Linked DNA regions of Homo sapiens: region 2 is linked to region 1. The links come from fine-mapping of genetic effects on gene expression. A gene starts in region 1. The other region holds a variant in brackets. All regions are shown on one strand. Distances are from middle to middle. Region 1 holds the start of SMIM17 (small integral membrane protein 17). Region 2 overlaps ZNF71 (zinc finger protein 71).

Region 1 (5,376 bases):
CTACTAAAAATGCAAAAATTAGCTGCGCATGGTGGTGCAAGCCTGTAATCCCAGCTACTCGGGAGGCTGAGGCAGGAGAATCGCTTCAACCCGAGAGACGGAGGTTGCGGTGAGCCGAGATTGTGCCACTGCACTCCAGTGTGGACAACAAGAACAAAATTCCGTCTCAAAGAAAAAAAAATTTGTTCCCTCAGAATTCTGGGGAAGCCCCTCAAACTTGAGTCCATTTTGAAACAACCATAATTCATCTGGACTATCAGGATCATAACTGGAGATTTTTACCCCATATTGAGGACCTGCTGTTCAATAATTATAATGATAATACCAGTGACATTTACTGAGCACTCAAAATTAGGAGGCATATGTATTAACCTATATGATGTTCACACTAACCCTATGAGGTAGAAAATATTATTGTCCCCATTTTGCAGGTAAGGAAACTGAGACCGAGTTAATTCACTTCCCAAAGTTATACAGCTAGTACATTGTTAGATCTGCATCTGGATGCCCAGTTCCTAACCCTCTCAAGACTCTGTGACCTGGGGCAGCTCACCTGGTCTCCTGCACTAAATGTCTTGTTATCAAAGGAGGTGATGAGGATTGGATGAAATGTCTAATTCTTGACACTTCATCTCTCTTCTCTGCACACTCTGAACTATCTTTGGAATGGCAGGAAACTCATCTTCTAAACATAGAAATGAAGAAAGTTTCCCATCCCAATTACATAACCTATCTGAAAACTCGTAGGCAAACCCAATCTCAGTCCTTCCATAATCTTACTGTGTGTCCTTTGTACAACTCATTTAACTCCTTTGTGCCTCAGTTCTCTTCTCTGTTAAATGGGGATAATAATACTACCACTTTGGGCTGTTGGAATTAAATGAGATAATATTAACGAGATGGCTTTCCTTGTAGTATTTTTTTGATAAATGACAGTTATTTTTGTTTTTCTGAATAACCAGGGTAATTCAATTTTCTATCCATTAGGGAAAGGAGGTTAAATCCTTACCTCATACCATTCAAAAAAATTCCAGAAGGTTCAAACAAAATAAATATATAAAATAAGACTGTAAAATATAAGATTATACAGGAAAATGTGTTTATGAGAGTAAGGGGAGGCCAGGAGAAGTGATTCATGCCTGTAATCCTAGCACTTTGGAAGGCTGAGCTGGGAAGATCAGTTGAGGCCAGGAGTTTGAGACCAGCCTGGGCAACATAGTGAGACCCTGTTTCTACAAAAAATTTAAAAATTAGCCAGGTGTGGTGGCACATGCCTGCAGTCCCAGCTACTCAAGAGGCTGAGGCAAGAGCATCACTTGAGGCCAGGAGTTCAAGGCTGCTGTGAGCTATGATCACACTACTGCACTCCAGCCTGGGTGACAGAGTAAGACCTTGTCTCAAAGAGACAAGGAGGGGGAGGAGGGGCGGGGAAGAGAGGGAGAGACAAGGCTGAGGAAGGGCATCTTAAGACCCTAAAAGCAAAAAATAAATAAATAAATAAAAAGGATATCTTGTATTTTTATTAAAATTCAAAACTTCAGGCACTGTGTAAACACAATAAAAACATAAGGGAGGAGCCAGGAGAAAATATTTGCCACAGATAGAGTAACAGGCAAAGGATTAATGTGCAGAATATAGAAAGAATGTCTATTAATCAGTAAGTAAAAGCTACATAAACAAATAGAACAATGCGGAGAGGAGGAGATAAACGGGTAATTCACAGAAGAGAGAATAAGCCTGTTCAAATACATGTGTTTAATTCTCCTCACTAGTAATCAGGGAAATGTAGCTAAGATGATGCAGGGACGCCGTTTTCCCCCTACCTATGGCTTTGCCGAAAATTTTAAAAATTTAATGTAGCCTCCATGAGAGCAACTTGGCTGTAGTCACTGCATTGTAAATTTGAACAACAATGGTCATTGATAATAATAGCAGCTATTAGGCACTGTTGTAAGAACTGTACGTGTATTACTTATTATTGTTATTATTGTTTTACTTTCACAGAAATCCTGGGACTTGGTAACCATAATTATTCCCACTTAACAGCATGGGCAACCGAGGCACGGAAATGTTAAGTAACACACCCGAGGACTCACTAGTAACAAATGGCAAAGCCAGCCGCTGCCCCAGGCGGTCGGGCCTCAGGGTCCCCGGGCTGCCACCCCCTGCCCCAGCTCCTTCTCCCTTCCGCCCACCCCGGACTCCCGGTTTGCAGACTGGAGAACCACGGGGGGCGTACGCAAAGCCGCTGGCCTTGGGGCGTCTGTCGCAGGGTACCTCGAACATAACCTACGTGCTCATCAGCTAGAGATGGACCAGCTCGGTACCACACCCCCCTGCAACCACGCCGCGGGTACCCCGCCTCTGCGGCTCATCCACTCCCTTCCCCACGCGCCTCCAGGTGCAGGCTTCCCGGGGGTGGAGGAGGGGAGGAGGACACCCACGCTCCCCAATTCCCCCACCTCCCATCTCCCACCTCCCCCCACCCCCCCGCAGCCTCCGCGTCTGCGCAGCCGCAGTCAGTGCGGCGCCAGCTCTGCAGAGCCCAGACAGGGTCCGGTTGGGGAGGGTGAGTCCTTCGAGGGACCCCCGCGGGCGGGAAGGAGGCGGAGAAAAGGGGCTGGGGGCGCGGGCGGCGATCCGGGGATGCGCGCGCGAGTATGGATGCGCAGAGGGTGTGTGTGCCTGGGCGAGGGTGAGGGGCAGAACCGCTCCAGGGATAGGGTCCGGGGAGAGGGCGTCTCCAAGCCCGTCCGGTGGGAGAGGACCGGGGTCTGTCGGGGTCGGGTCTGTTTCTCCGCAGCGGAGGTCTGTGTCCTGGCTTGGGGGTTGCAGGTGAATTCCAGCCTCCTCGTGAGGAGGGGAGCACAGACCTGTGTACCCTCGTGGGGCGGCACGGGCACGTGCGCTCGTCTCGCTGGGGCTTGGTGTCGATGTTCGCTCCCCCTGGGGTGTTCAGCGCACCTGCCCGAGTGTGCACCTGTGCGTGTTCGCGTTGTGTGTCCGCCTGGGCCCCTGTGGACCACCCTGCAACGGTGGGAGCGCAGGCTCTCAGCAAACAGGTGCAGCAGCCCCGCCCCCACTCTTCTGAGCTGTGTGGCTTTGATCAGGGGACTTCCCTGTCTGTTAAATGGAAACCTAATAGTATCTGTAGCGAGAAGTATGGCCACCTTTATGTGAGAAAAGGGATTCGCAGGGCTCAGCAGGGCTGGGCACAAGGAGAGTTCTGGGCTCCGGGAAACACTGCCGGTATTTTTATTGCTTTTACTGTGGTTGCTGGTTGTCGTTGTTGTGACTGCGTCTCCATTCTCTCAGGGGATGACTTGTTTGCTATTTCACCATGAACACTGAGGCTGTGGGGTGTGAATCTCCTCCCCCCACCATACCTCTGTCTCATCCCCTTTCCTTCTTCCTCCTCCATTCACTGCGGATCCAGCTTCTCCTGACCTTGACCTGATGGCTGTCGTCTTTCCCATCTGTCACCCCGCTTGCCTGCATTTTCTCCTTTCTCATGCCTTCCCCTCCCCTCAACCTAGATCCATGATTAATTATGTCTCATATTAAAAACAAAGCCAAGCAAAACCCCAAAGCAATAAACAAATCAGAACTCCCTAATGGTACTCTCTAACACTCTTTCCCACGAAGGTCCCATAGGAATTTTCTTGCCCTGAAAAATGTCTAGGCAGCCTCCTCTCCTCACTCCCAACAGACTCCCCGGCCCACACTGAGGTTGCAAATGGGCAACCCCAGGGTCTAATTCAGCCCCACAACTTGTGCTATTTGACTAAAGGTGTCTTCCTGTTAAACACTGGAAATAATTATTGACATCATGAAATGTAGAAAATGCCATCTGAAAATATAGATTTCCAGTCTTCTTTTGAGAAATCACAGGATGGGCGACACCAGTCCCATGCGTTTGCTCTGCAGACATTAGCTGAGTTGCATGGTGCAGCTTCTTCAGACAGGAGACCTGATCTCTCTTGCCCCACTCCCCACTGCCTCCGTCGTCTCTCCCCATGCCATATATCCACTGCCATTTGTTCATGTGCTCCTTACAATAGAGAAGTATTTCTCTGGACCTATATTTAATTTTCATTTGTAGAAAAGTGACAGTAAAAGAGTCCTCTTGATTGACTCATTGATTGATTTTTGAGAGAGTCTTTCTCTCTTACCCAGGCTGGAGTGCAGTGGCACGATCCTAGCTCACTGAAGCCTTGAACTCCCAGGTTCAAAGGATCCTTCCAATATCTGAGACTACAGGCTCGTGACACCACACCTGGCTAATTTTTAAACTCCTGGGCTCAAGCAACCCTCCCACCTTGGTCTCCCAAAGTGCTAGGATTACAGGTGTGAGCCACCTCGCCTGGCTGATTTATTTATTAATTCATGTCGTTTCCTATCCCATTTGTTATATACAAATGTGCAGACTGGAGAATCATGTGTGGCTGTAGGTGTGTATATGAGTATGTGAGTGTGTATGTGTGTGAGTATGAATGTGAGTGTGTGTGACTGTGAGTGTGTATGAGTGTGTGTGTTAGTCTATGTGAGTGTGTGTGAATGTGGATGTGTGTGTGTTTGTGTTTGTGTTAGTGTGTGTGTATGTGACTGTGTGTCTGTGTGTGTGTATGTGTGGATGTGTTTATGTTTGTATGTGTGTATATGGGAGTATGTGAGTGTGTGTGTCTGCATGTGCCTGCCCATGACAATCACTCCCTTTCCAGCTTTGTCTCCAGAGCACCCTCTAGCGTTTGACCTGCTGTGTGCTTTATTTGTTCCCTGCCTGTCTCTTTGTCTCCCTACTAGAATGTAAGCCCCAGGAGGGCAGGAATCTCCACTTGATTACTGCTGTATTTCTAATGCTTACAGTCGTGCCTAGCCCCTGCTGGCCCTCTGTAATGATTCACTGAATGATGAAATGTCCATCAGTCCTCAGGTTCTGAATCTTGTGCCTGGAGAACCAGAGAGGACCCTGGAGCAGGAGGAGAAAGAGAAGCTTGTCTCAGAAGCTCCACCTCCTCCTGGGGCAATGCAGAGTCTCAGGCCTGAGCAGACACGGGGGCTGCTGGAGCCTGAGAGGACCAAGACTCTGCTGCCTCGGGAGAGCCGGGCCTGGGAGAAGCCTCCTCATCCCGCCTGCACCAAAGACTGGGAGGCTGTGGAGGTTGGGGCCTCCAGCCATGACAGTGATGAGAAAGGTGAGAGGCAGGGGTCCTTTGGGAGGTGAGTGGGTGGAGAGGAAGGAATTGGCAGAGCCTAGGGAAAGACTAAACATTCACTCCTTCACTCATCCATTCAACAGCTATTCATGGAGCACTGTGTCAGTCAGCTTTTGCTGTGTAACAAGTCATCCCCAAACTTAGGGGCTTAAAGCAACAA
Region 2 (5,365 bases), 20 kb before region 1:
AGGGCAGGTGCGTGATGAGCTAGCGGGAGCCGGAGCCCCAGCCAGGGGAGAGGATCTTGCAGCCAGCAACCCTGGGGCAGCCATACCAGAGAAGTGGCAAAGGGGCAGGAGAAATGCCCGATTTTTCTCTCATTTCACTTCCAGTTTCCTGCCTTTGGCCAAACACACAGGAAGCCAGTGGGCAAAGTCAGCATCCTGAGCACAGGGCAGGTCAGAGAAGGGTGGAGAATAGAAAGTGGGTCGAAGGAGTAGAGAATAACCAACACATGCCATATAAATGCTAGCTATTTATTATTTCTTTATTCTTTTTCTTCTTTTTTCAATATTTATTTATTTATTTATTTTTTAAGAGACAGGGTCTCACCCTGTCACCCATGCTGGAGTGCAGTGACGTGATCATAGCTCACTGCAACCTCGAATTCCTGGGCTCAAGTGATCCTCCCACCTCAGCCTCTCAAGTAGCTGGGACAATAGGCATGTGCCACCATGCCTGGCTAATTTTTAAAAAAAAATTTAGTAGAGGCGGGGGTGGGGGGTCTCACTATGTTGCCCAGGCTGGTCTCAAGCAATCCTTGCCTCAGCCTCCCAAAGTGTTGGGATTACAGGCATGAGCCACTGTGCCTGGCCATCTTATTATTTCTGATAAAAACTGTTGCTTGAGGAGCACGACTGGTTGTGGATCTGCAGGATGAAGTGAGGAGGCCCTGCAAGTCAGTAGCCGGCTGCAGTCATTCCTACTCAGGTTTGCAGAGCCTGCCCTTTGCTCCCTGCAAGCCCAGCTCACTACTGCAGTTTCTCTCCAGGAGTGCCTGTCATCCCTCTTCTGAAGGGACATTTGCTCTCCCTGTTCACCTCCTGTGTTGACTCTGCTTCATAAACCACATTGGCCTCAGTTCCATGCCTCCCTCCTCCCTCCCTCTCTGATCCAAGGTTCTTCTTTGCTAACTCGCTCTGTGCCTTGGGCCTCATTGGGGTCGGTTTCATTTGCTCCTTCCTGCTGTGGAGCTTCCTCACTCCCAGCATCTTTAACTACATGTATTTGCATCTTCTGTTTTTGTTTTTTTCAGACTGGGAGACTAGACCTGAAATGAAAGAGTTGGATCCAAAGAATGACATTTCGGAAGACAAGCTCTCCGTTGTTGGGGAGGCCACGGGGGGACCCACGAGGAATGGTGCCAGGGGTCCTGGCTCAGAAGGAGTGTGGGAACCAGGCAGCTGGCCAGAGAGGCCGCGGGGAGATGCAGGTGCAGAGTGGGAGCCATTGGGAATTCCCCAGGGGAACAAACTCTTAGGGGGCTCAGTACCCGCATGTCATGAACTGAAGGCATTTGCCAACCAAGGCTGTGTCCTGGTCCCACCACGGCTGGACGACCCCACAGAAAAGGGGGCCTGTCCACCCGTAAGGCGTGGCAAGAACTTCTCCAGCACTTCAGACCTCAGTAAGCCCCCCATGCCCTGCGAGGAGAAGAAAACCTACGACTGCAGCGAGTGTGGCAAGGCCTTTAGCCGAAGCTCGTCCCTGATAAAGCACCAAAGGATCCACACGGGAGAAAAGCCGTTTGAGTGTGACACCTGTGGGAAGCACTTCATCGAGCGCTCGTCCCTCACCATCCACCAGCGGGTGCACACGGGCGAGAAGCCCTATGCCTGCGGGGACTGCGGCAAGGCCTTCAGCCAGCGCATGAACCTCACTGTGCACCAGCGCACGCACACGGGCGAGAAGCCGTATGTGTGCGACGTGTGTGGCAAGGCCTTCCGGAAGACTTCCTCTCTCACCCAGCACGAGCGGATCCACACGGGGGAGAAGCCCTACGCGTGCGGGGACTGCGGCAAGGCCTTCAGCCAGAACATGCACCTCATCGTGCACCAGCGCACGCACACCGGGGAGAAGCCGTACGTGTGCCCCGAGTGCGGGCGAGCCTTCAGCCAGAACATGCACCTGACCGAGCACCAGCGCACGCACACCGGGGAGAAGCCGTACGCCTGCAAGGAGTGCGGCAAGGCCTTCAACAAGAGCTCCTCGCTCACCCTGCACCAGAGGAACCACACCGGCGAGAAGCCCTACGTGTGCGGCGAGTGCGGCAAGGCCTTCAGCCAGAGCTCCTACCTCATCCAGCACCAGCGCTTCCACATCGGCGTGAAGCCGTTCGAGTGCAGCGAGTGCGGCAAGGCCTTCAGCAAGAACTCCTCGCTCACGCAGCACCAGCGCATCCACACCGGCGAGAAGCCCTACGAGTGCTACATCTGCAAGAAGCACTTCACGGGGCGCTCGTCCCTCATCGTGCACCAGATCGTGCACACCGGGGAGAAGCCCTACGTGTGCGGCGAGTGCGGCAAGGCCTTCAGCCAGAGCGCCTACCTCATCGAGCACCAGCGGATCCACACCGGCGAGAAGCCGTACAGGTGCGGCCAGTGCGGGAAGTCCTTCATCAAGAACTCCTCCCTCACTGTGCACCAGCGGATCCACACGGGCGAGAAGCCCTACCGATGCGGCGAGTGCGGGAAGACCTTCAGCCGCAACACGAACCTGACGCGCCACCTGCGGATTCACACCTGAGCGCCTCTGTGCAGGGCTCTCACTGGCGGTGCCCAGGACGGACGCCAGATGGCTGCGCGCTTTGTCAGCAGTGCTGTGAGAAGTTCTCCCCTGGGGTGGGGACTCGGGGTCAGGGGAGCTCAGGAATGTGG[G/T]GTTGTGGAGGGGCTGGCTGATCACACATGCCCCCTCCTTACTGAGCCTCAGAAAGCAAGCCCCTCGGTGTCTGACGTATCTGGGGACACTTCAAGGTTCACTGTAGCTGAGCCATGGCCGCTGGTAACAGACATCAGGGTTCCAGACTAGCCCTCTTGAGTAACTGTCCTAGAGCTGGGACAGGTCACGCCTGCCTCCACATCTCTGTTTCTTCAGCGGGAAAGTGGAGCTGGTGGAGGGGAGGGAGGAGACATCTCCCTCTTTGTCAGATACATCCTGGAGTCCAGATGCAGCTTGTCACCATCTGCATTTTCTCCGTGGGTTGGGAGCGTGAGGGCCTTCCTATCCCTCCACCCACCGTTTCCCTGCAGTGCACGCTGGCAGCCACCAAGCTAGGAAGTGGCAGGAGTTTGCCGGTTGTTTGTGAGGGGAAAAATTTTTTTTTCAGAGTTAGCAAATAACAGTAACTACTGCTTTGAATGCCAAAGTTTCTTAGAGTGGTCTGTTACGTTTTTTAAAAATAAAACTTTTAATTAAGGGAGACTATGTTATTTTAAACAGTCTTCTGTTTTGGCCAGTTGTCTGGTCAAAATCGGCTTCAGTGATTGTGGGAGGGGCAAGAAGGAAAAGAAACAGCAGCAGGTTTGATATTCAGAAAGAAATATGCATGGATTCAATAAGTATATACATCTGAGCACAGATTATTTTTATAGTGATTTTTGCAGCTAAATGTGAAGGCAACTGTCTTAAGTCCCTTCCTGCTGCTGTAACAAAAGACCTTAGACTGGGTAATTTATAAACAATAGAAATTTGTCACTCATGGTTCTGGATGCTGGGAAGTCCAAGATCAAGGCTCTGGCAGATTTGGTGTCTGATGGGGTATGTTCTTCATAGGTAGTGCTTGTGTCTTGATGTGTGTCTTCACGTGGTTGTAAACGGCAGACTTCCTCAGGCCCCTTATAAGGGTGCTAATCCCAGTCACAAGGGCCCTGACCTCATGACCTCCCAAAGGTCCTCCCTCTTCATACTGTTACATTGGGGATCAAGTTTCCAATATGTGAATACAGGGAAGCACCAACAGACCATATCAGTAACTTCGAGTGAGTTTCCTAAGGCCGACTGAAGCTCTGTTTACACATAAGAGTGTTCCCCAAAGTGCACTTTCTCTGGGGCCTTTTAGGCCATACTTTTAATTTTGTTATTTGATACTACTGGTTGCTAATGTTCTGGCATTTCCAGTTGTTCCACACTCCCTGACACTGGTGTACACAAATAAATAATACAGAAAAAAAATTATATCAGCAAGCACATTCTGCAAATAAGAAAAACAGCCACTCGGGCACGTATAAACAAGGTGGACCGTTTTTCAAATTCTGGCAGTCAAGTGGGCCTCAGGGTGGGTTTGATTCAGGCTCTCATCATTGGAGCCATAGCTGTGGTTCTCTGTGATGCTCTGGCTCTCCCTTCATACTTCTTAACATCATCCTCAGGCTGGCTTCCCACGTGGGATTGTGGTGGTTTCCAGCAGCGAGTCTTGATCAGACATTGCTTTAGTTGCATCTGTTGTGGGAATAAATGAGAATATGTATGCACTGCAGAGAATGGAGTGTTAAAACAGTCAACAAATGTTAGCTAATATGTACACAAGATTTTACTACTCTTTAGCAGCAAAATGGAGGGGAAGACCTTCTAAGGCCCTTTGGAGAGATGAAATGGCTCATTTAACCCTCACAAGATCCTCGAGGTAGGGATTCATGTGCATGTCGTATAGATAAGGAATCTGAGGTTCAGTGAGGCAAGGTAAGCTTCCTGAGGGCACACAACATGGAAGTGGAGGGGACAGGGTGTGAGCTGGGGTCCACCTGGGCTCCGAGGTCCGTGCTCCTTGCCTACACTGGACTACTTCTAGAGATGGACATATTGAATTTCTCAGGACTTGACTCCTGGCCTTGGTTTCCTGGACTCCCCAGTGTGTGAAGCAGAGATGGGATCGAGGCTGCACCACCACCATCCCCCTCTCCCATCCAGAGAACCAGCCGGGCCACCTCTCAGGTCCCTCCTGTTTCTTTTCTCTGCAACCCAAGCTGATGTGGAGGGCATTGAGGCTCCTCTGGGGGGATGCTGTGGTACCAGGTGGGTCTCACATCCCTGGTCTCCCGCCTCCTGGGCAAGCTCCCCACTCAGGGCTCCACGTTTCCCCAAGAGGAACCCTGAGGTGGCTGGAATAATGGCCACATTGACGGAGTCACTTGTCCAACTCTGAGGGGGCGCTCTCATCACCCCCACTCTACAGATGGGGAAACAGGCTCGCAGAGGTTCAGGCACCTGCCCAAGGTCACACAGCTGCTGGATTCAAACCCATTCTGACTCCAGAAGCTGGACTGCAGTCCACGGCACCACTCCACCCACCAGTTCCTCAGTCAGGTACTTACTGAAGCCAAATTAAATTTACCCCCCTGAAAATGTGGGTTTGGCAGGGATCAAGCAGGTCAGGAACCTGCTTTTTAACAAGTCTTCTATCCCATACATCTGTCCAAGGCACTATTTGGGGTTATGTGCTGGCCTTCGAGTTCACCCTCACTGGGCCCTGTGTCCCTGTGTCCCTGTGTCCCCAGGCCTGACCCAAGCCTGGCCTTGAGGTAGAGGTCATGGGTGCTGGGTGGGGTCTGAATGACC

What was found.
Region 2: its variant is fine-mapped to the expression of SMIM17 in left ventricle (GTEx, PIP 0.98). The same link has a PIP of 0.9 or more in skeletal muscle.

The regions. Positions count from the first base shown.
Region 1 is chr19:56,640,642-56,646,017 of GRCh38, forward strand. SMIM17 (small integral membrane protein 17) reads left to right here and starts at 2,518. Exons shown (of 4, transcript NM_001193628.2): 1 at 2,518-2,569; 2 at 4,927-5,195. The coding sequence starts at 5,027. ZNF71-SMIM17 (ZNF71-SMIM17 readthrough (NMD candidate)) reads left to right here. Exons shown (of 5, transcript NR_163263.1): 3 at 4,927-5,195.
Region 2 is chr19:56,620,201-56,625,565 of GRCh38, forward strand. ZNF71 (zinc finger protein 71) reads left to right here. Exons shown (of 4, transcript NM_001370215.1): 4 at 1,068-4,286. The coding sequence ends at 2,557. The region is part of intron 2 of ZNF71-SMIM17 (ZNF71-SMIM17 readthrough (NMD candidate)); the gene reads left to right. Among named protein-coding and RNA genes, the nearest start is that of SMIM17, 20 kb to the right of the region's middle. The variant G/T (reference allele first, on the strand shown) is at 2,689.